2 linked regions of the Homo sapiens genome follow. The protein of the gene in region 1 binds, or shares a complex with, the protein of each later gene. Each region holds a gene or a part of one and is shown on either strand. Other genes may lie near its edges.

Region 1 (11,030 bases):
TTTTACAGTTTAAATAAACTTTATTGAGGGTATTATTTGTATCCATAATAAAATGTACCTCTTTTTAGTGCATTTTTCCATGAGGTGTAGAAAATGTACGGACCTATGTAATCACCAAAAAGTTTCCCGTGCCTTACTGCAATCCTCCCACCCCAACACCAAGAAACCATTGATTTACTTTCTGTCACTATAGACTTACCTATTCTAGAACTTCATAGGAATGAGTTAATACAATCTTTAGTGTCTGGCTTCTTCCACTCAGTGGTGCTTTTTATATTTACTCATGTTTTTGTGTATATAAGCATTTTGTTCCTTTTTGTTGCTGAGAAGTATTCTATTGTATGGACATATCACATTTATTATTATTTCACCTGTTGGTGAACATTTGGGTTGTTTTTAGTTTAGAGCTATCATGAATAAAGCTGCTCCCAACATTCATATGCAAGTCCTTATATACATGTGTTTTAATTTTTGGAGGGTAAATGCCTAGAAGTGGAATTACTAGGTCATATGGTAAATGTGTGTGTAACTTCATTAAAAACAAAAACAAAAAACAAAACTTGCCAAACTGTTTTTCAAAGTGGGTGTACAATTTTATAATCCTACCAGTGAAGTATGAATTATTTCCAATTAGTCCACAATCTTGCCAGCATGTGGTAGTGTCTGTGTATGTGTGTTTTGTTTTGTTTTAATTTTACCAGCCTAGAGGTCACATAGTGGTATCTTATTATGGTTTTAATTTGAATTGCACTGGTGACGAATGATGTTGAGCAATCCATCTGTTTATGTGCTTACTGGTCATTTATATATCTTCTCTTTCTTTTGAGAAAACGTCCCAGGCTGGAGTGCAGTGGCACCATCTCGGCTCACTGCAACCTCCGCCTCCTGCATTCAAGCGATTCTCCTGCCTCAGCCTCTTGATATATATCTTCTTTTAAGAAGTATGTGTTCAAATCTATTGCCATGTTTTTACTGCTTATTTGTCTTCCCATTATTGAGCTGTAACAGATCCCTATATATTCTGAATGTAGGTCCTTTGTTAGAAGTATGTATTGAGCATACTTTCTTCCAGTCACAGACTGGGAGAAATTTATTTATTCATTTTCATTTATTTTTAAGCAATGGTTTTCAAAGAGCAGAGATTTTTAGTTTTTATAATTTATTCTATTTATTTTTATTTTCTTGAGATGATTCTGTTACCAGTGGAAGAGATCCAAGTTACCCTGAATTATTAGCGGCGATCTGTACACATCTGCAGCAACTTCGTCCTTGCCTCCTCAGAAGAATTCGACTTCATCTCAGGATTTTATAGGCTTACCTCTTTCCCATGATTCTTCCCTCAGGGTGGGCTGCCTGCCTAGTGCCTGCCCCCTTACCCTTGGGAATTGAGCACACACAGCGTGTTTAGGAAGTCATATGCATGCCTATCTGAGACTTTCTTCCCTTTTTCTGGAAGAGCCTGCCTGGAATGTCTTATTTTGCCATTTTGTCTCTTAGTGCACATGCCCAGGCAGTTTCTTCTCCCGGGCATCTGGATTCATTTAACGCTTTAATGTTAACAGCTGTGGATCACCAGGAAATGGCCTCTCCCTGGCACCCTGGTTAGGCTGCCACATTATCGTTTTTAGAGTGGTGGTGTGATAATTGTCCAACCATCACCTGACATTCCTAGTGGGTGGGTAGAGAGCCCTCTCCTGCCTCACTCATGCCTATCTAACTACTTATAACAATACTTAATATCAAGTAAAATCCACCCACTAGAACATACATCCCTTCACAGGGGATGCAAGACTGCTAGCTTCCCCCATTTTTAAAAAATTATTTTTTAATTGACAAGTGAAACTTGTATACATTGATGGTGTACAACATATTTTGATATAGGTATACAATGTAGAATGGCTAAATCAAGCTAATTAACATATGCATCACCTCACATATTTGTGTATGTGTGTTGTGAGAAGCCAAATTTATTAACTTTTTCATTTATAGCTAGTGATTTCTGTGTTCTGCCTAAGAAATATTTGCCTACCTCAAGGTTGCAAAGATTATCTCTAATGTCTTCTTCCAGGAGTTCCTTGGTAAATTCTAAGTAATTTTATGGCATGCTGTAAAGGTCAAGTTCCTTTTTCTTTCAAAAAAAAATTTTTTTTTTCTTTCTAAAAATCTGGGATTTTGGAAGGAGAAAGAATCTGGATGCAGCAAAGGGAAGCACTTGCCTTACCGCCTGGCTGTGACATACATGGAGCATTGTATGTCATGCAATGATATACACTGAGATGGGCAAAACTTTCGGTTAAAGCAAAAAGAAACATCTGGGAATACAGTGGTGCTTGCTGAATCCAGATGATTCCATGCTACATGGTGAAAGGGCTCAAGCGGGCAGCAAGGGTGACCACTGGACCAAATTAAGGGCTATAAGGAGCAGTGATGTGCAGGGTAGGTTACTCACAGGGGTTATTATATTATCTGAAATTTACATTAAAATACTTGGCAATTAAAGTGTGATATAGTTATGCGTAAATTAGTTTTTACAATCTAAATAGTTAAGATTTGATGTGTTGTAATATACGGCACATTAGCATAAGGGATGTCAGATATTTTTCACTGGTGAAATGAGGAGTACTTAATATATGCAGATGGGCTTGAGAACTGTGCTGATACTTCCCACCCTTCATGGACAGAGTATAAGAATTAGTGAACATTGGATATGACTAGGTGACCTCTTTGAATCTCAATTTCTTTCTCTGTAAAATAGGAAAAATAATGTCTATCTTCTAAGGGATATTGAGAGGAATGATAAGACACGCCCAACTCTAGGCTTGGCATTTAATGACTGTCCCACCCAGGTTAATTTGTTCCTTTTCCTTCTACCACTTTTTTTACTGTAGTACTTCGAGCTCCTGATTTTATGTCACTTACCACATTCTCTTTTGAGTTCCCATCTCAACTCTCTTGCTAGACACAGTCTTGAAGCTTAACTAATGCTGGCCTCCCTCTGAAGGTCCCATGGCAAAGCTCATCAAATCTTAGTGTACCCAATCACCTGAGATGCTTTTTAAAAATGCAGATTACAAAGCCTTACCTCAAAAGACTGATTCTGTATGTCTGTCTGGGTGTGGTCCAGGAATGTGCAGTATCATCGAGCACCTTTGGCTATGATGAATTAGGTGGTCAAGAACCACTCAGAGACACGTGGGATGTGAGAAAAACTTGTTTCAGAAATCCTACAATTACATTTTCTTCAAATTCGAGTTGAGACCCAAACAAAGACAGCTGACCCAGTTCTCCAGTCCCATGTGGAGGCTGGACTCAGCTGACCCAGGCCTGAAGCAGGCCCATCACCCTTGTTACATGTTTCCGCCCTTCTGGGTGACATAAAAATATCATTTTTGCTGGTCCGGCAGCAATCTCCCCTTTTCTGGTAACCCCCTGGATTTTCCCTACTCTTAGTGCAAAGCTTCAAGCAAGGCTAATCCCTTTCCCCACCATGAAAGTGAAGGTCAGCCTCTCAGACATTTATAAGAACAAGGAAGAGGAACACTCTTCCTGTAGAGATACTAAACTAGTAAGAACCTAAGTCTGGAGCTGCCTACTCCACTCTTACATAGAGTGCCTACTTGAGAATGAAACTAAGAGAGATGGTGCCCTTTGACATCATTAGGCCCCTGGGGTTCTTGCTAATCTGAGTTACTAATTCTCTTTTTGCTTTACGTCAGTTTGAGCTAGAATTTCTCCTTGCAACTGAAAATTCTGACTAACACACAGAGCCTCTACATTTCTCTGCACAAATGAACGCTTCCTCTCTGGGCAGTCCCAAATAATTCCCCTGTACCTCACTCTCCTCAAAGAACGTCACCTCCTTGCCACAAATGCAGGGAACCTGCTCCTTGGGACCAGGTGCAGCCCACTTTTCTTTCTTCCTTGCAGGGAAAAAAAAGGCCTTTTCCTTTGAGGCTTATGTTACGGAGCTCACTGTTCATTACTACTGTCTTCATTACTTAATTCATTTAAGACTGACACCTGTTTTATAATCTCTCCTTCCACCCTAGCTCTGCCATCATTCCAGATGGATCTCATCATTCATTTAATAGCCTATAATCATAGTTCATGTAGCATTCACTACACACCAGGCACGGTTCTAAGCATTTTACATATATTTTAGTTCACTCAACCCTTATAATAGCACAAGCTATTATTACGCCCACTTCTCACATAAGGAAACTGAGGCACAAAAAGGCTATTTAGACTTGCCTAGAGTTACCCAGTCATGAAGTGGTAGAGTAGGGATGAGGACAACGGAGTCAAATTGCAGAGTCCAGACTGGCCTCCCAGTTCCTTATAACTGTACCATCCTCCACATCTACTCTGCATTGGTGCTGTGGAGGTGGGAGAGAGGGAGTACCTCCTTCACTGAGTCACTGGACATTTGGAAGGTCTTTGGAGAGAAGTCAGCTGAGGATGGCCTGCATTGCCCCTTCCTGGAACTCAATGATTTGTTGTTATCACCCATGCAAATTCACCAACAAACAGATAAAAGTCAGGAAGCTGGGATGCAGCTGAACTGAAAACCCAGCAGCAGAAAAGCAGGTTATAGATTCTGCTCTGGGTGCTCCATACAGCTCCTTCCTCTCTGCCCCAATAACCTCCCTCTCTTTGGGAACATTGCTGCATTCAGGGCAGTCTGTCTTCCCTCCCTATGGGCTGTCTTTAGAATGTGTCCCTTGCCTATATCCATATTCATGCTCCGTGCTCCTCAGCCCCCTAGAAACTTTGCACAATAGATTCAAAACCTCTGGTTTCCTCCCTTCCTCTGTCTGAAAGAGTGAAAGAAGGAAGCCAGGGATTTCAGGGGGCAGCCAGGCAGCAGTATCACCACCCCTAGGCAATCACACCTAGTTGCAGCTTCATCGGGAACAGCTCAGCTCTGAAAACACAGACCTGGGACTCTCCCTCCCAGCCTTCTAGCTCTCGTTCCTGTGAGCAGCTTTTCAACCTCCACTTCCAGCCGCTGACAGGCCCTCCTGGCTCCACAAGGCCAGCTAACATACCCACCTTCCACAATCCCCAGCCCTGCCAGACATAACCTGCAACAGGCATTCCTGGATCAATGCAAACTCCGACTTCTGTTCCAGGAGTCTGCCTCTGTTAGAAGAATCTCACACAAGTGTGCGTGCTGTGCCATTGTAAATGCTGTATAAGGTGGCCAGGCCCAATCAGTCCCTGCAAGACACCGAACAGTAAGAACTATCTATGGAGTGTTTACTATGTGCCAAGCACCGTCCTTTGCAAGCACTATTAACCCTCAAAATACCACCACCGTGAGATTGAGACCATCATGATTCCCGTTCTACAGAAGGAAACACTGAGACTTCAGGAGGTCAGGACCTTTCCAGGGTCACAACTGCGTAACTAAGTTGCAGAGCTCAACCCAGTGGCACTTCCATCTCACACGCAGCTGTCTGATGGTCAAGAGCCCAACCAGTCCCCCGGTCGTTTCTACCGCACTAAACCGCTGTGTCAAGCTGGAGCAGCGGGCTCAGCAGTGAAAATGAAAGAACAGAAGGAGGTTACAGAGAAGAGAACGGTCACGGTAAATTCCGGAGAGGAGGCAAGGACGTACACACCGAGATACTTCCCGGTCACCGTTACTCAGCACTTTGTGGGGTTCACGTGGCTGGGGGGGCCGGGGCGTGGCGGCCCTTTTCGAGGAATCCAGCCCTGCCTGGGCGGTCCCCATCTCGAGCGTGGGCGTGTTCGATTCAGGCCCGGCGGACGCATCCCCAGGTGACCCGGGAGGGACCTTGTGTCTCTGGGGGTGACTGTCCGTCTCCCCGCCTCCCACCGTCACGCGCAGTGCTGATCCCCACTTCCAGCTGGAGTGCGAGCTGGGCTTGGGGTTACAGGAGCCGAAGCCCTGGAGCTCCGCCCCACGCTTGCGCCAGCCCCGCCCCGATCCCGGCTCGCAGGCTCCAGGGGCGGGGCGTGGCCGGGGCGCAGCGACGGGCGCGGAGGTCCGGCCGGGCGCGCGCGCCCCCGCCACACGCACGCCGGGCGTGCCAGTTTATAAAGGGAGAGAGCAAGCAGCGAGTCTTGAAGCTCTGTTTGGTGCTTTGGATCCATTTCCATCGGTCCTTACAGCCGCTCGTCAGACTCCAGCAGCCAAGATGGTGAAGCAGATCGAGAGCAAGGTACGCGCTACCGGGGAAGGCCAGGGTGCCGGCGCCGCGCGCGGCCTCTGTAACTGGGGAAGGCGGTGGCGGGAGGTGGGGAAGGCGGTGGCGGGAGGTGCGGAGGCCGCCCCTCCGCATCGCCAGGGGAAAGGGACGCGGCGTCTCGGCCTGGGACTGCGGGAAGCAGCGGCCTGGGCGCGCCCGAGGCGGTGGAGCCTGCCCTGGAGGAAGGGAGGAGAAGGACGAGGGTCCCCTGGAGGGCGGAGTGGCGGTGCCCAGCGTTTCTCGCACCCTGTTCCTCGGGGGATTGCACGCACGCGGGGAGCGTCCGGGGGATGTGAGAGCGCAGACAGCGTGAGGAGTCCCCACGCTGCGCCTCCTGCACCCTCCCGTCCGGGCAGCCCCGACTGGAGGAAGATGAGGGAATGGAAGGGGTCCGCCCTTGGCCCCCCATCTGTATCCAGATTCAGGCCCCAGGCAAGGATAGGGAGGGCCCTTGCAGAAGGCACGGGTCGGTGGCCGCCGCTGCCTTTCCGTATGTGAAGTGATCCACCCGCAGCGGGGGTAGTGATCTCCCTTTGGGAGCGGGTCTAGGCCGGAGACCCCCGCCTGCCTCCACCCATGCCCGACCCCAAAGGTGACGCGTGCTGTATCCGCACTAAGGGGGCGGATTGCGGCTGGAGACCCCCTGGCACGTGCAGGTCTGTCCAGGAGGCCCGAGGGCCCCAGGTGACCGCGAGGAAGTGAGGTCCGGGCCGCGCCCACGGGACTCCTGTGGCGCAGGGCGCGTTTCCGGCAGCAGTGGCTTTGGAATGACTGAGTCCCCAAGGTTGGGCCCGGGGGCCTCGGCTGCCCTGCCCGTCCATGATTCACCCTCAGTCGGTGGGTTTTGCTGGAGCCAGGGTTCCTCCTGGGAGCAGCCGCGCCCTGCTGCCTGCTCGCCGACCTATCGGTATCCCGATCGTTGTTTTGTCCTCTTAAAAATGCCCAAGGCGAAACAGCCTTCCCATGTTTGAAAGTTATTGCAAGCCTAAAACCTTGTAGACTGGGAAACCCAGAGCCTAACGCGCAGTGTCTAGTCCAATGTAGCCACTCCAGAAATATTTGTTAAATGCAGCGTCAGAAAAGTGAGTGGAGGAAATTGATACTGCTCGAACGGTAGAAGACCCCTCGCCAGCGCCTACCCTGCGATTACCCCTCCCTACCTGCGGGAAGCAGAGGAGGGCGGGTCCTCGCCCGCCTCGGGTGCCCTGACCTGTTTGGTGCCGGGTGGGCTTCGGAAACAGAAGTGTGTCTGCAATGTGTCCCCGATCCTTTTGTTCCTTTGATTATTATTGACTCTCAGTGTTTTTTCCTCATATGTTGATTGCCACTGTCATCTTTTATCTTCCTCTCAATCAGTTTTTTCTTAGTGGGATTCTCATTTTAGCAGCCCTCATGTGTTGAAAAGATCCTTAGTAGTGAATTGTCTTTCATATACTTTTTTTCCAAGCACCTATTGTGTGACAAATTATTAATCCATTCCTGGGGAAGGGAGTGGGGCTGGGATTCTGTTCTCCAGGGTCTGGCAACCTCAGTATAACCCAACTGCTAAGAACCCCCTCCACTGAGCCAGAAGACCTTTGAGTGGTCTATGTTAGTTGTCCCAAAATCCAGACACTACAAACAAAGTTGATTAGGATTTCTGGAGCACACAGTTTAGTCCTCCCAGTTGTCAGAGCATGTCAGAGCACCTTCCTCCTCTACCAGTGACAAAGGTGTACAAGGGTGACAGGAACTTTAAAAAAAGCACTACAGCCTGGGGCCCAAAGGCCCTGATAATCAATTAATCCTCAAAATAACAATCCAAAGTCATTGATCGAAAGTTACACTAATTTGATTGTTATTTGTCTGTTAGTTTGTTTTTCGAGATGGAGTTTTGCCCTTGTTGCCCTGGCTGGAGTACAGTGGCGCGATCTCGGCCCACTGCAACCTCCACCTCCTGAGTTCAAGCGATTCTCTTGCCTCAGCCTCCTGCACAGCTGGGATTACAGGCATGCGCTGCCAAAATGCCCAGTAATTTTGTATTTTTAGTAGAGATGGGGTTTCACCATGTTGGTCAGGTTTGTCTCGAACTCCTGACTTCAGGTGATCCACCAACCTCAGGCTCCCAAAGTGCTAGGATTACAGGCGTGAACCACCACGCCCAGCCTGTTATTTGTAAATGTTGAATACATGTTACATTTTCATCCTAATGGGCTAAATTTGCACCATTTGCCATTCAGAACAATTCTGTTTCTGAGGTACTCTGTTGGTGCTTTAGGGCCAACTGGGATCTATTTCAGAGAGGAATGGAATAATTGACTGTAAATGTGATGAGGAAGAAATAAACACTTTTAAAAAAAATGACACCTACCATTTATTGAACTCCCATCTACAAGGCACTTGGCTAAGTACTTCAGAAACCACTCACACTTATTACCCTCAGAGTAGGTATGTTGAGGCAACGAGATCTTAGACTCTTGCTCCTATTTACCCCAACTACACTGTTCTGCTTCCCCCAGATTATTGGTGTCAGTGATGGAGACATTTATTAATCCTGTTAGTTTCTGGGAGCTAGAAATTGTGATTTCTTCTTAGTAATACAATCTTGAATAATTTTCAAGCTGATACCCGTTTAGAAGTATCAGAAGAGAATTTGTACATGAAGCCTGCACATACGTGGGGTGTAACTCATGTTCAGTTAGGCTAAAAGTTATTGTTGCGTGCCTCTTTTCAGAATTTTAGGTACTTGTGCTTAAATTTGATTCAGAACTGTTTTGGAAAAGCCTTGAGTATGTTTGAAATACCTTCCCTCTTGAAAGTAATCTCAAGTTTTTAATAAGGGTTAATCATGTTAAAAAAACAAAAATGTCTATTCAACCAGACATTGGCATTTCTTGACCTTTTTTCCTGTCTTACCTGGATCTTGCAATAAAGGATGCCTGGTTTAACTTTCTTGAAAATCACATTAGGGAAGGCTTTGAATGAAATTGATCTGGAACAATAAGTGATGATTTGGAAAAACAATTGCTATACTTCTATGTACCCTGCTGCAGCTCTCCCCATGTCTCCACCTCTAGAGGTGGGGTTCAGGGATTTGCATAACTAAAAAATTTATGAAAGTGTTGTCCTACCTTTCTCAGGAACACCATTTGTGAATTATTTTCCCAAAAACGAGGTAGAAATTAGAAATCTAGAGAAGTAACTATTAGTACATGAGGTCATATTAGTGTTTTCTTGTTGGGTTTTTTTTTGTTTATTTGGTTTTTTATCTTATGGTTTTTTATTTATTTGATTTCTTTCTTTACGAGACCTCTTGTGGCGGTGGGGGGCGGGGAATGTTCATTTTTTTTTAAACCTATTTGACCAGCATTGTTTCCTTGAAGAAAACCTAGATTTCAGATACAGATGTTTATGTTTTGATTTATCTTAATTGCTCTGGTTTGGTTTTTGGGTTTGGTCAGCACTAACGTACTAATGTGGTTAAAATGAGTCCTTTGTTTTGGGAGGCCAAGGCGGGTGGATCACTTCAGGTCAGGAGTTCAAGACCAGCCTGGTCAACATGGCGAAACTCTGTCTCTACTAAAAATACAAAAATTAGCTGGGACTGGTGGCAGAGGCTTGTAATCCCAGCTACTCAGGAGGCTGAGGCAAGAGAATCACTTGAACCCCGGAGGCAAAGGTTACTGTGAGCCGAGATCAGGCCTTTGCACTCCAGCCTGGGCAACAAGTGAAACTCCGTCTCAAAAACAAAACAAAACAAAAATGAGTCCTTGGTAACTAGAATATTCGGTTCCCAGGGTTACAGTATCTAGATAGTAAATAATTCAGGGAAGTTAGTGGTAAGAGATTTCTTGATCATTTCTACTGAGAATTTTATTTAACAAGCATTCCTTATGAAAAATAATATCTATGAAAAATTTCCTTCATGAGGAACGAAAACTTTCATTTAATGAATGACAAGGGTATAGTTTTAAAATAAAGGGCAAAAATCAAAGGTTGGTAAACGTGTGATCTCAGCTCTGGAAACCCCATTATGCTTATGTCAACGGTGATGTCTGAGTGTTGAGGTTTGGGAAAGGTGAGTTTCCTTGACTTTTCAAAAAATTTTAGATTTTCGTATGGTCCACCATAGACAAATGAGTTTAATCAAAAGTCATAGCTTTTTTTTTTTTTTTTTTTTTTGCGACAGAGTCTCCGTCTATTGCCCAGGATGGAGTGCAGTGGCACAATTTTGGCTCACTGCAACCTCCGCCTCCTGAGTTCAAGCTATTCTCCTGCCTCAGCCTCCTGAGTGGCTGGGACTACAGGCATATGCCACCACGCCCAGCTAGTTTCTGTATTTTTAGTAGAGACAGCATTTCACCATATTGGCCAGGCTGGTCTCGAACTCCTGACCTAGTGATCCGCCCACCTCGGCCTCCCAAAGTGCTGAGATTACAGGTGTGAGCCACCATGCCCAGCCAACTTTTATCTTTAAGTAACTTGTGATGTTTCAATTGCAAAATCCTATGCCTTTGTGACTTCAAGTGACCCCTTTCATAATCCATAAGTGTTTAATGAATGTCTACCATATACCTAGCCTTGACATGGAAACATTTTTAATACAAATGTCTATTTTTATTTTCCTTTTGTTTGGTGTAGAGAAAAAATAGCCAGTTCACAATATTTTATAAAATAGTTATGAAGAGAATGTCAGTATACTCTACACATATCTTGTTTCATCTTATCAAGTAACACTACCAACAATGTATAGAATTTCTTCAAACTGAGTTTTATTTGGCTTGTTTGGGGATTTTTTTTTTTTTTTTTTTTTTTTTTTGGCTAAAAAGTAGGTCC
Region 2 (11,001 bases), on another chromosome or scaffold:
TATTAATAATTATATAATTGGTATTATATAAATATTAATTTTATATTGCAATAGTTATAAAGTAAATATCATATAACATTATTAATATAATAAATATAGTATATTAATATTAATAACTTGTATTTATTAACAATATATTAATAAATGACATAATTTCACATTTCTTTCAGATTTCTGTAAAAGCTTATCAGGAGTTATATATATGCAAAACCATATTTATCTTATTAAAGAGGCATGTATAAGTGTCAGACCATCACTTATGAATAGATTTGACAGCCAGATATACAACCTTTCAGAAAACAGAAGCAAACCTCCTCCATAAAAACAAGTAATTGGCAGCTGTCTCAATGATGTCCAGTAACTAGCCTTATTTCACTCAGAACAGTTTTGTCGGCTTCATATAGCATGACCAATCACCCTGGTTTACTAGAGCCTGAGGGTTTCCTGCGCAAGGGACTCTCTGTGCTAAAAGCAAGATAGTCCTGGATCAACCGGGATGAGTTAAGTCTCTATTTCCATGCCTTCATAGAAATCATTAAAAGATATCTCTCTGTTATGGGCTGAATAATGTCACCCACCCTGAAATTCCTATGTTGAAGTCCTAACCCCCAGTACCTCAGAATGTAACTGGATTTTGAGATAGGGTTTTTAAAGAGGTATATAAGTTAAAATGAGGACAGTGGGATGGGCCCTAATCTAATATGACTGATGTCCTTATAAGACGAAATGATTTGGACGTGGACACAGAGGGACAACCACATGAGGACAGGGAGAAGATGGCCATCTGCAAGCCAAGGAGAGAAGCCCTCAAGTAAACCAATGCTGCCAACACATTGCTGTTGAACTTCCAGTCTCTAGAACGATAAAAAATATTTCTGTTGTTTAAGCCACCCAGTCTGAGATATTTTGTTTTGGCAGCCCTAACAAACACATTCTCTAAGGGTTTATTCTCATTTTTGGTTTAGTGTATTTCAGCTGATGATTATAGCCTAATCCTCCCCCTCTTCTTGGGGCCTCTCTTCTCTGTACTCTTCCTCCTCATATCTCACACAGGCAGATTTGTTCCTGCCTCCTCACCTACATTACGAGCTCCGCACAGTCTCCTTTCTTCTGGCTCCGGCTCCCTCATTAATCTTTCTGTTATTAACGCTATTAACTCGTTAAACTATCTCTCCACCTTTCCAAACTTCCATTAACTCTGGCACTCCATAAGTGTTAGTCAAATAAATGAAGAATCACACTAACTCCTCTTTCCTTCCCTCTCACTCCAAACTCTTGGTGAGATTCTTTTGCACTTATGCCCTCGTTTCCCCATTTCCCACTCACTTGTCAGTCTCCTCATTCTTGGTTTTCCTCATTATATTGAAACACATCTGAAAAAGTCATGTAAGACCACAGCCACTGCGTATCAGTGCTATTTGAGAGTTAATAAAGTTCCCTTTTCCTCCAAGACAGCGAGCAGAGTGAACAGAAGAAAGACTGGTTTCTGCCCTTGGCTGCACAGCCATGCCCCGAGGCCGGGCTTAGGATTTTATAATTCACAAAGTCAACTGTCTCTTCCCCTCTCCATCCTTTAGGAACTGTCTGCAGTATCTGACACTGTTGAGAGCTCTCATACCCTTTAAACTCTCTCTTCTCTGGCTTTCTGAGCTTTCCTCCCACTTTTGATGGCACTGCAGGAGTTTTTAAGCATCTCTCTCTCATACCAACCCCAGAAATAAAGTCATTCCTCGAATTCCTGTACTTAGCCCCTTGTCTCCTAACTCTTTGACCACTAATGTTTTAGAAACACTCTCCTGACAACTATCGCATCTTTGCAGTTGTTTCCATTTCCAACGCCATGTCTCTCTGAGCAGCAGCCTTGAGTTTTCAATTGCATATTTATTAGTCATTTCCATATGGACATCTCACTAAATCTGTCATACTAAACATGTCTAAAATATGTATGTTTACATGTTACATGTATGTTTGGTATGTGGGAATGCATTACATTCCCACAGATTTTTTCCCAGTTACAGTGTTACTATTCTAATCACTCAGACTAGAACACTCAGAGCTATCTATGAGTCTTCCTCTCACTCAAACTGCATATATAATCTATAAACAGGTCCTGTTGACCTCATCTTCTAAAAATCTCTTACATGCTCCTTTTTATATCATTGGATAATAGTTTAGTGTGGTGGTTAATATCATGCACACTGGAGCCAAATCTGTTAGGTTCAAATCCTGACTCTCCTTCTATTTACTAATTATGAAACCTTAGGAAAATTATTCAACTTTTCATCTGTAAATATGGGGATTATAATGGTGATCCACTTTATATGACTGACAACCAAATAAGTGAATACGTGTATAGCAGGTATTAACCATATGCTTAGCCGACCTATTTCAACCTCCTAACCAACCAGAAGAACTGTAGTTCCCTGCTCTCTTGCATCTAAGTGGGGCCATGGAATGTGGGCAGAAGTGTTGTGTCACCTTTACTCAGAGGCAATTAAAAAGAAGACATACTTTTCCTATGTTCTCATTGCCAATGAACACACTACACAGATCTCAACCTCAGAATTCTCTCCACACTGGTATTTCCAAAATAGCTTCATGAGAAGGGAAATTTGTGTAGTTTCAATGATTTAGTGATGCTATGGTTTGGGTATTTGTCTCCTCTAAACCTCATGTTGAAATGTGACCCCAATTTTGGAGGTGGGGCCTAATGGGAGATGTTTCGGTCATGGAGGTGGATCCCTCACAAATAGATTGATGCTATTCCCTGCAAGGAGGAGAGGATGAGTGAGTTCTCACTGCATTAGTTCCTATGAGAGCTGGTTGCTAAAAAGTTTGGCATCTCTCCCCTCTCTCTCGCCATACGATCTCTCTGCACACACCACCCGCCTTTGCCTTCCATTGAGTGGAAGCAGCCTGAGGCCCTCACCAGACGCATATGCTGGTGCCATGCTTCTTGTACAGTCTGAAGACTGTGAGCCTAATAAACCTCTTTTCATTATAAGCTACCTAGTCTTGTGTATTCTGCCATAGCAACACAAATGAACTAAGACAAGTGACAAACACAAAATAACTTGTCTTTTAGACAATATTGATGTCTGAAATTCCACATTGAGGCATTTTTTTCCTCTTCGTAGCCTGATAATGGCAAATACCTTCTGACACCTTAGGATGGATGAATTTGTAAGAGATATTCCTGGAAGCAGGTTTGTACAGTGTAGAGAAAATGTTGGGTAACAAAGCAGGAATGGAGGAGGGTTAATCAGCAAGCCAAAAAGCTTTTATAGTTTTGCCTGCTGTGCTGCATGGAATTACATCCCCCCAAAACATATGTTCAAGTCCTAACCACAGGTACCTGTGAACATGAGTTTATTTGGAACTAGGATCTTTGCAAATGTTATCAAGTTAAGATGAGGTAATACTGGATTGGGGTGGGCTCTAAATCCAATGACTGGTGTCTTCATAAAAGAAAGGTGAGGGAGAGTTGAATATAGCGACACAAAGGAAACACGGGGAAGGAGACCATGTGACAATGTAGGCACAGAATGGAGTGTTGCAGCCAAGCCAAGAATGGCAAGGATTGCTGGAGCTACCAGAAGCTAGGAGGAGGCAAAGGATTCTTCCCTAGAGCCTTCAGAGGGATCATGGCCTTAATGGCACCTTGAGTTCAGAATTTTAGGCTCCAGGACTGTGACAGAATAAATTCCCGTTGTAAGCTGTTCAGTCGGTGGTAAATTTTTACAGCAGCCCCAGGAAAATATGCCTGCTCAACACCCTACCCTGAATTTTAAGTTCATTTTATGGAATCATTTTGAGTTTGGAGTTTGATTTAATCCTTTTCAGTAATTAACGCTCTTCATTTTTTACTCCCAAATATGTCACACTGGCTCTACTCTTATAACAATTGTATTTATCTATCTTTTGGTAATGGGGCTGCCACCCCTTGCAGAATGAAAAGTAGAGTGTGTATGCTCACACCTCCCTCCCTCCCTCCCTCTCTCCCTCCCTCTCTCTTTCTTTCTTTCTCAGAGTATCGCTCTGTCTCGCCCAGGCTGGAGTGCAGTGGCGCAATCTTGGCTCACTGCAACCTCTGCCTCCAGGGTTCAAGCGATTCTCCTGCCTCAGCCTCTGGAGTAGCTGGGATTACAGGCGCCCGCCACCACGCCCGGCTAATTTTTTTGTATTGTTAGTAGAGATGGGGTTTCACCATATTGGTCAGGCTGGTCTCAAACTCCTGACCTCAGGGGATCCACCCGCCTTGGCCTCCCAAAGTGCTGGGATTACAGGTGTGAGCCACCGCACCCGGCTCACAGAATTTCTTAAAAAGTCATTGTGTTCAGTCTTTATGGATCCTCTAAATTCCAGCTGCTCAGCCTCCCGGAGCTAAATGAGATCACTTAAAGGTCGACTGTTGGGGCCTCCAAGGTCGCCTCGGAGACTCACCTCATAGGCAATCAAATGGATCGCTGGGTTTTTGTGTGTGTGGGTTTTTTTTGTTTATTTTTTTTTTCCAGAAAAACACTCCACCAAGAAGGTTTTTATAACCTACTGGAGGAGGAGGATGGAGAGTGGGCACGAAAGGACTAGGATGAACATGCCATAAGCAATCTAAATGCCACTGCAATATTGCCTGGTGAGGACCTGATTACTGATGTTTTAAAGCTAAGCTTTCAGTTGTCACTCCACCCAGTAGTGAAACAATGAGCTCTAAAATATATATTTCGGCTCAAGCTTTCTTATGTGGGGAGGTAATCCACCCGAAGGTATCCCCAGCCTGTACCTAATACAGTGCCCAGCACTAAAGCAGCTCAGATGCCAGTGAATGGTGGCCACTGGGAGGCCTGTCAGTGGGTGCCAGTAGCGGTCTCTTCAGAGAAAAAGAAAACTCCCCTCTGCCAGATCAGTATTTTATGAGCTGTGAACCAAAACCATTGCTACCACCATCACTATAATTCTATCCACAGTAATTATCATAAAGGCCTAACAATGCCTTGTAGATGAACATTCTGAGTAACTGCTCTATAACCAGGAGATTTAAGACCGCACCAAAAACCAGTAGAGGGTTATACTTTACTGGGCACAAGTCGTTTATGATAACGAAATTGTAGTTTAATCTGTGAAGAGATGTGAATGTAACTGAGACACGCTTAAATGGAATATACAGATGAGCTTTATTTTTATATCTGGCATGCTTGGATCCATGCCGACCCTCCAGCTGCTCGGGCCTGCCCTTAGGGGCTATGGACCGCATGACTCTATCAGCGGCACTGCCACCGCCGCCGCCTCCGTGCTGCCTGCGTTCCCCGACCATTGATTGGGCCCGGCAGGCGCTTCCTGGGGGCTTCCCTACCGGCTCCAGCCCTTGGGATTCGGGAGCGCCCTGCTAGGAAGCCAGAGCCCCGCAGGGGCCGCGGCGTCCAGGCCGCCTAACGCGCGCCCCTCGCCCGGCGCCCCGAAGCGGCCCCGAGGGGCGGGAGCCGAGGCGAGCGGCAAGGCCGGGCCGGGGGCGCACAGCGCCCCTAGAAGTGCGGGCTTCCCCCACCCCCGGCAGCGACCCTACCTCCCGCCCCCGCTGCGTGCGCGCGTGTGTCCGTCTGTCTGTATGCTCTCTCGACGTCAGTGGGAATTTCCAGCCAGGAAGTGAGAGAGTGAGCGAGACAGAAAGAGAGAGAAGTGCACCAGCGAGCCGGGGCAGGAAGAGGAGGTTTCGCCACCGGAGCGGCCCGGCGACGCGCTGACAGCTTCCCCTGCCCTTCCCGTCGGTCGGGCCGCCAGCCGCCGCAGCCCTCGGCCTGCACGCAGCCACCGGCCCCGCTCCCGGAGCCCAGCGCCGCCGAGGCCGCAGCCGCCCGGCCAGTAAGGCGGCGCCGCCGCCCGGCCACCGCGCGCCCTGCGCTTCCCTCCGCCCGCGCTGCGGCCATGGCGCGGCGCTGACTGGCCTGGCCCGGCCCCGCCGCGCTCCCGCTCGCCCCGACCCGCACTCGGGCCCGCCCGGGCTCCGGCCTGCCGCCGCCTCTTCCTTCTCCAGCCGGCAGGCCCGCGCCGCTTAGGAGGGAGAGCCCACCCGCGCCAGGAGGCCGAACGCGGACTCGCCACCCGGGTAAGCCAAACTCGGGCGAGTGGGGGCCCGGCAGGGGACGCGTGGCCCAAGTCCTGCCGCCCAGCCCTCCGCACCCCCTCCAGCCCCACTCGGACTTCCTCATTCCTGCGCTAACCGCTGGGCTAGACCGTGGGAGGAGGTTGACAGTAGCTGAGAGGCACATGGGATTAGCGACAGCGGGGAAAGACACATCCGGACCTCGCAGGGGCTAGTCGGCCGAAGGGCCGCGGCCGCCCGGCGGTCATTTCTCTTCACGTCCCTCCGCGGGGCGGGAACGCGAACCGGAGGGGAACTCTTACAAACTTTTAAAATCCCCAACCCCAGCCCCACCTGGGGGATGGTGAGAAGGTTGGAGTGCGCTGCGGCGCGGAGGAGAGAGGGAAGGTGGTTGGTGCAGTGCAGAACCAGATTTCACCTAAGGGCGTTCCATGAAATGAAAGCAGAAGTGCTTGTCAGTCCTCTTGGCTGGGAAAGCCCTCCCCAGCTCCCCAGAATTGAATAGGAGAGTCTATTCATCCCTCTCCTACTTCTAAAAGAAACCTGGCTCGCTCTCTGTCTCTCTCTCTCTCCCCCCTCCCCCCCTCCGTGCGCGCGCGCGCGCGCACACACACACACACACACACACACACACACACACACGATATAGTCACCTGCTATAGGACTTGATTCTGATCCTCCGGGGCCTGGCATTTGAGAGAGAAAATAAATTACCTACCTGGATACTTAGAGCACTTTTTAGACTTGATTATGTAAAACTCTTGGACAGTGCCACCATGCATTATGCATGACCGCTGAAACAAAAATAATGTAAAAACAAGGCCTATCCTAAATGCAAGTTTTTCTATGGTCCTTAAAAACAGACACCAGGGAATGTTTGCCCTGACTTGCTGGTTTATCCTGAAACTCAAATGGGACTTAATGATACAGGATTTAATTATCAAGATTGACATGTTCATGGACTTTGTTAAGTAGAGGTTTTCAGCATTACAGTTTATGAAATAACCATATTTAACTCAAAGATTTTTTTATAAAGCTCATAATCTGAAAAAATGCTTATGGTATTACTAAAACATTTAATAGCTCTGGCATCAAAATATTCTACATACTGGTGATCTTTTAGTAAATAGTAAAGGTTAGGGTCAAGATATTCAATAATTTTTTTCTAGCAGAATCCCACAACTGAATATTGTCAAGCAGTTTAAACTGCATTCGTGTTTGTTAAAACTTTAAAAGGGAAACTTAAAACTAAAGTATGTTGTTTTTCTGATTTTAATATTGTGCTTTCTAGAGATGAATCCTTTTACTGTTTGAGGCACTATAGGAATTATGTATTTAAATGTATGTATTTAAATTTGAAGCAATGTACTTTTTTGAGTTTATAAACTTGGGAAGACAGGAAATAAAAAGATTTGTTTCCTGTAGAATTTTACATTCATGATTTAATTGAATTGCTAAAATGGAAAGAACATGTACGATTAATGGAGACTTGGAATCTGAGATTATTCATCCATATTGATACACCTGCAATTCCTAAATGCCCTCCCCTGCTTGTTTAGATAAAATGTCTTCCTGGGCTGCAGCCTACTGGACAAACTTGAACACAAAGGAACACACGTTATATGTACATTTAATACTGGAACCGAAAAGCTGCTTGCAGTGAAAAGCAAACCACTTCTAAACTCTTTGAGACTTTTTAAAGAAGGTAGTATAATCCTTTTAGGGGTTGGTGGTGATGTGAAAATCTATTATCTTTTTGCTGAAATTTCATTCTTATGTTAGGCATTGGCACTCACTTGTGCTGAGTAAATGCCCGTGTTTTTCAAACCCAGATAGTAAATACTGGGGGTATACATACAAAAATAGTCCTTCCCCTTTGTAAGCATTGCTTTGATCTTTGCACTTCCTTTTTACTCTACCTCTTAAACAAGATCTGTGTTGATTGAGTTGATTAAAGCACAATTAATCTGAAATAGGCAGAATTTTAGATTTAGTGATTATATTCCTTACATTTCTGTTGTTACTGTTCCTGGAAACAAATTGAAGTAGTTTGAGAAACTAATATTTATGCAGGTTGTTTTAACTACACTTTTAGACTTGCAGATAATTGATTAAGTAAGTTACTACCTTGACTTTCAGGGATTGCTCATTGTGGTAGATACGAGGTCTAGATAGGGAATTGGCAGCTACATGAATGTTGGACTATCATTCCATCAGCAAGACCTTATTTTTACCTAATTTATGAGAGGTATTTCTCTGTTCAGAAGAGGTGAAAGTTCTGGCTTCTGGGGGGAAGTGGTTACTTCATAACCTTCAATTGGTTTGAACTTGGGAGAAGTAAGAAAAGTAGTCGATATTTTCAAACAGTAAAATAATTGTATCTGAGTTGCTGTATGGATTTTTGATGAAGTACTCAAAATGTCATCTTTTGCATCTTCGGGTCTTAGTAGATGTGCTATTCTGAGTATAGAATTGACTGCAGTAGGAAGTGTATCTGGAAATGCACAGTACTGTTGTATAACCAATAGAGTAAATTCTCAGATTATGCTCTTCTGGTCCACAGATTGATCAGAAATCACATTAACAGGAATGGATGTCTATGCAAAATTTCTCATTAATTTTCTTACTTTTAGTAGGAAGTTTGTTTTATTCGGTTGGTCTGTTGGTTTTCTGTTTACAAGGTGAATTGTCTACAGTAGTGGGATTGTTATATTAGAAGAGAAGGAGAAGGAAAAATAGAAGTTAGTGCTAGAGGATATGTTAAGATGTTCTGCTCCTACATCTACATTTGTGTCTAATCAGCATTAATTGATGACTACGTCTTGGTAAACAGTAGACCATACTGGAGCAATTTACTCTGCTTTTTGGGAATTAGTTCTCATTTGCACTCTTGCACCTCCCATAAATACTGAACTCACTTGTAGTGTTCTTAGAGGTCAGCAATAAACCATCAAGAGCATATGATCTCTCTTTGAATTTTGTCACTACTTTGGAGACAGACAGTTTGGAAGAACTGAAGGTACTCAGCCTCAGGGAGAAAGGTTTGAACGTTTTGGCATAGTCCTGCAAGTCAGTTTGGCTCCTTGACTGTGAATTTTTTTAATCAAAAAAGATTAATATTTGAAACCACATAATTTGGACAGTTAATAGTTCTGGTAACATAACCAAGCCTTTTATCTTTGTAGTATTTCATTAATTAGTATCCAGTGCCTCACTTTTAGAAGAAAAAAAGAGAAAAAAGTAGTAACATTCTTTTAATGATGATGAAATTGCTTCATACCTTTGGTCTCTGCTGTATTAGGGGTTGTTCCTGGGTGCAAATTAATATACTGTCTTTTACATTTCCGGAGGTTGTTGACCTGGCCTTGAAGATCAGCCAACAGTTTAGAAAATAAGTTGTGCAAATTGCATTGCTACACCTCAAATAATTTAAAGCCTGACAGTTCTGTACAGAATAAGAGTCACATAAGATGTGATTTGTTAAAGATTATAGAAATCTCAGAAGATAGATTATGGATGAAAATATTTGTTTAATTTAGAGTACTAATAATAAAAATAGTGCATTTTACATTTTAAAAAGAAAACAATTTTTATTGTGTCATATTTTCTGTAGTAACAAACAGAATTAATTATCAGTAATACAAATTTCATCTGCTTTAATTTATTGCCTGTTTTTGAAATTAGAATAATGATATATTTGGTTTAATTATCCATTACAAATTGCCTTATTATTTTTCATTCATCTTTCACCATTAATCCAGAAACCTTAAAATAGCTTTTATTTTGACCCATGCCTTCAGTAGATATCAACAGACTTGAGTTCATCTATGGATCCTATTAGTTTAAACTGTGACAAATTTTGACTGCTTAAGCTTTAGAAAAGAATTTATTCTTTAAAATAGCCAAAATTATAAAAAATGAAATAAAGAAAAAGCTGTTTGAGAGAATCAAATACTCTAGTTTAACTAAAAATAAATAATATCTAATCAATACTGACGAAAGAAATATCTGATGCTTAGCATTGTACTTGTTGGTACATAGTAAGCAATCATTAACTGTTAAATGAATGAATGATATGAAGTTGTTGCAAAATTTTTTTTTAAATGGACAGCCATCTTCTATAAGGAACAAAAATTACATTATTTTGCTTTGCCTTCTGGAAAGAAAGGAGCACAAAATAGTCCTTGTGTCTTAGATATTATGGAAATCTTATCTAAAGACCACTTGAAGTTTACTAGAACAAATAATTTATTAAAAAGTATCTGGCGCCTTCCAAAAGGGGAACATTTCATTCTGAAAGAGGCATTTATGAACTAGAAAAAAAATGCCTTTTAGTTTCAAAGTTTTAGAGGCACCAGAGCAAGATTATAAAGTAATTGGAATGATAAAAGGTGCTTGTAAAATTGAAAAATGTAATTTTTTGGTGAAGTTAGAATTTCTGTACACTCCATTGAAACTGTAATATCAAATACTAATACCTCCAAAAAAGAAACAATGCTACAAGCACTGCTTGGTAATCTAAGAATTGTTAACACTTATCTAAATTAATCAACCAAAAAGTTAAAACAAAATATGTTATTTTGTTATGTTACCTCTAGAATTAAACACCTATCACCCATAAATCTGTGACTGTTAAAAGTTACTAGATGGCAAACCTCAGGAACAAGCAGGCAGTTAGCAGGGTTTACTGTACTTTCCACTTTCATACTTTAATGATTTTTCCAACACTATAGAAGCTGGGGCCTCATCCTAGCACAGTTTGTTCATTATTTTTCAGTTGTAGCATTTTTTAAAAGTTGGCCTTGAATTTCTGAATTGAACCATTTATTTTTTTGTGGACACAGTTTTTTAAATGAAATATACCATTTAGACTAGAAAAGAGCAAAATGCCAATACTCCCTGTC

Evidence for each region.
Region 2: the proteins of TXN (region 1) and NFKB1 are in contact, whole or in part, in an NMR structure (PDB 1MDI), measured with the Homo sapiens proteins. Residues at the interface, in NP_003320.2 of Homo sapiens: Thr30, Trp31, Cys32, Pro34, Met37, Ile38, Asp58, Val59, Asp60, Asp61, Gln63, Ala66, Ser67, Val71, Lys72, Pro75, Ser90, Gly91, Ala92; in NP_001158884.1 of Homo sapiens: Arg56, Phe57, Arg58, Tyr59, Val60, Cys61, Glu62, Gly63, Pro64.

The regions. Positions count from the first base shown.
Region 1 is NC_000009.12:110,251,570-110,262,599, reverse strand, and holds the start of TXN (thioredoxin), read left to right. Parts: upstream 1-6,092; 5' UTR 6,093-6,164; coding exon 6,165-6,188; intron 6,189-11,030. UniProt on the Homo sapiens protein: Participates in various redox reactions through the reversible oxidation of its active center dithiol to a disulfide and catalyzes dithiol-disulfide exchange reactions.
Region 2 is NC_000004.12:102,495,689-102,506,689, forward strand, and holds the start of NFKB1 (nuclear factor NF-kappa-B p105 subunit), read left to right. Parts: upstream 1-5,670; 5' UTR 5,671-6,100; intron 6,101-6,245; exon of another isoform or gene 6,246-6,484; intron 6,485-6,750; exon of another isoform or gene 6,751-6,798; intron 6,799-11,001.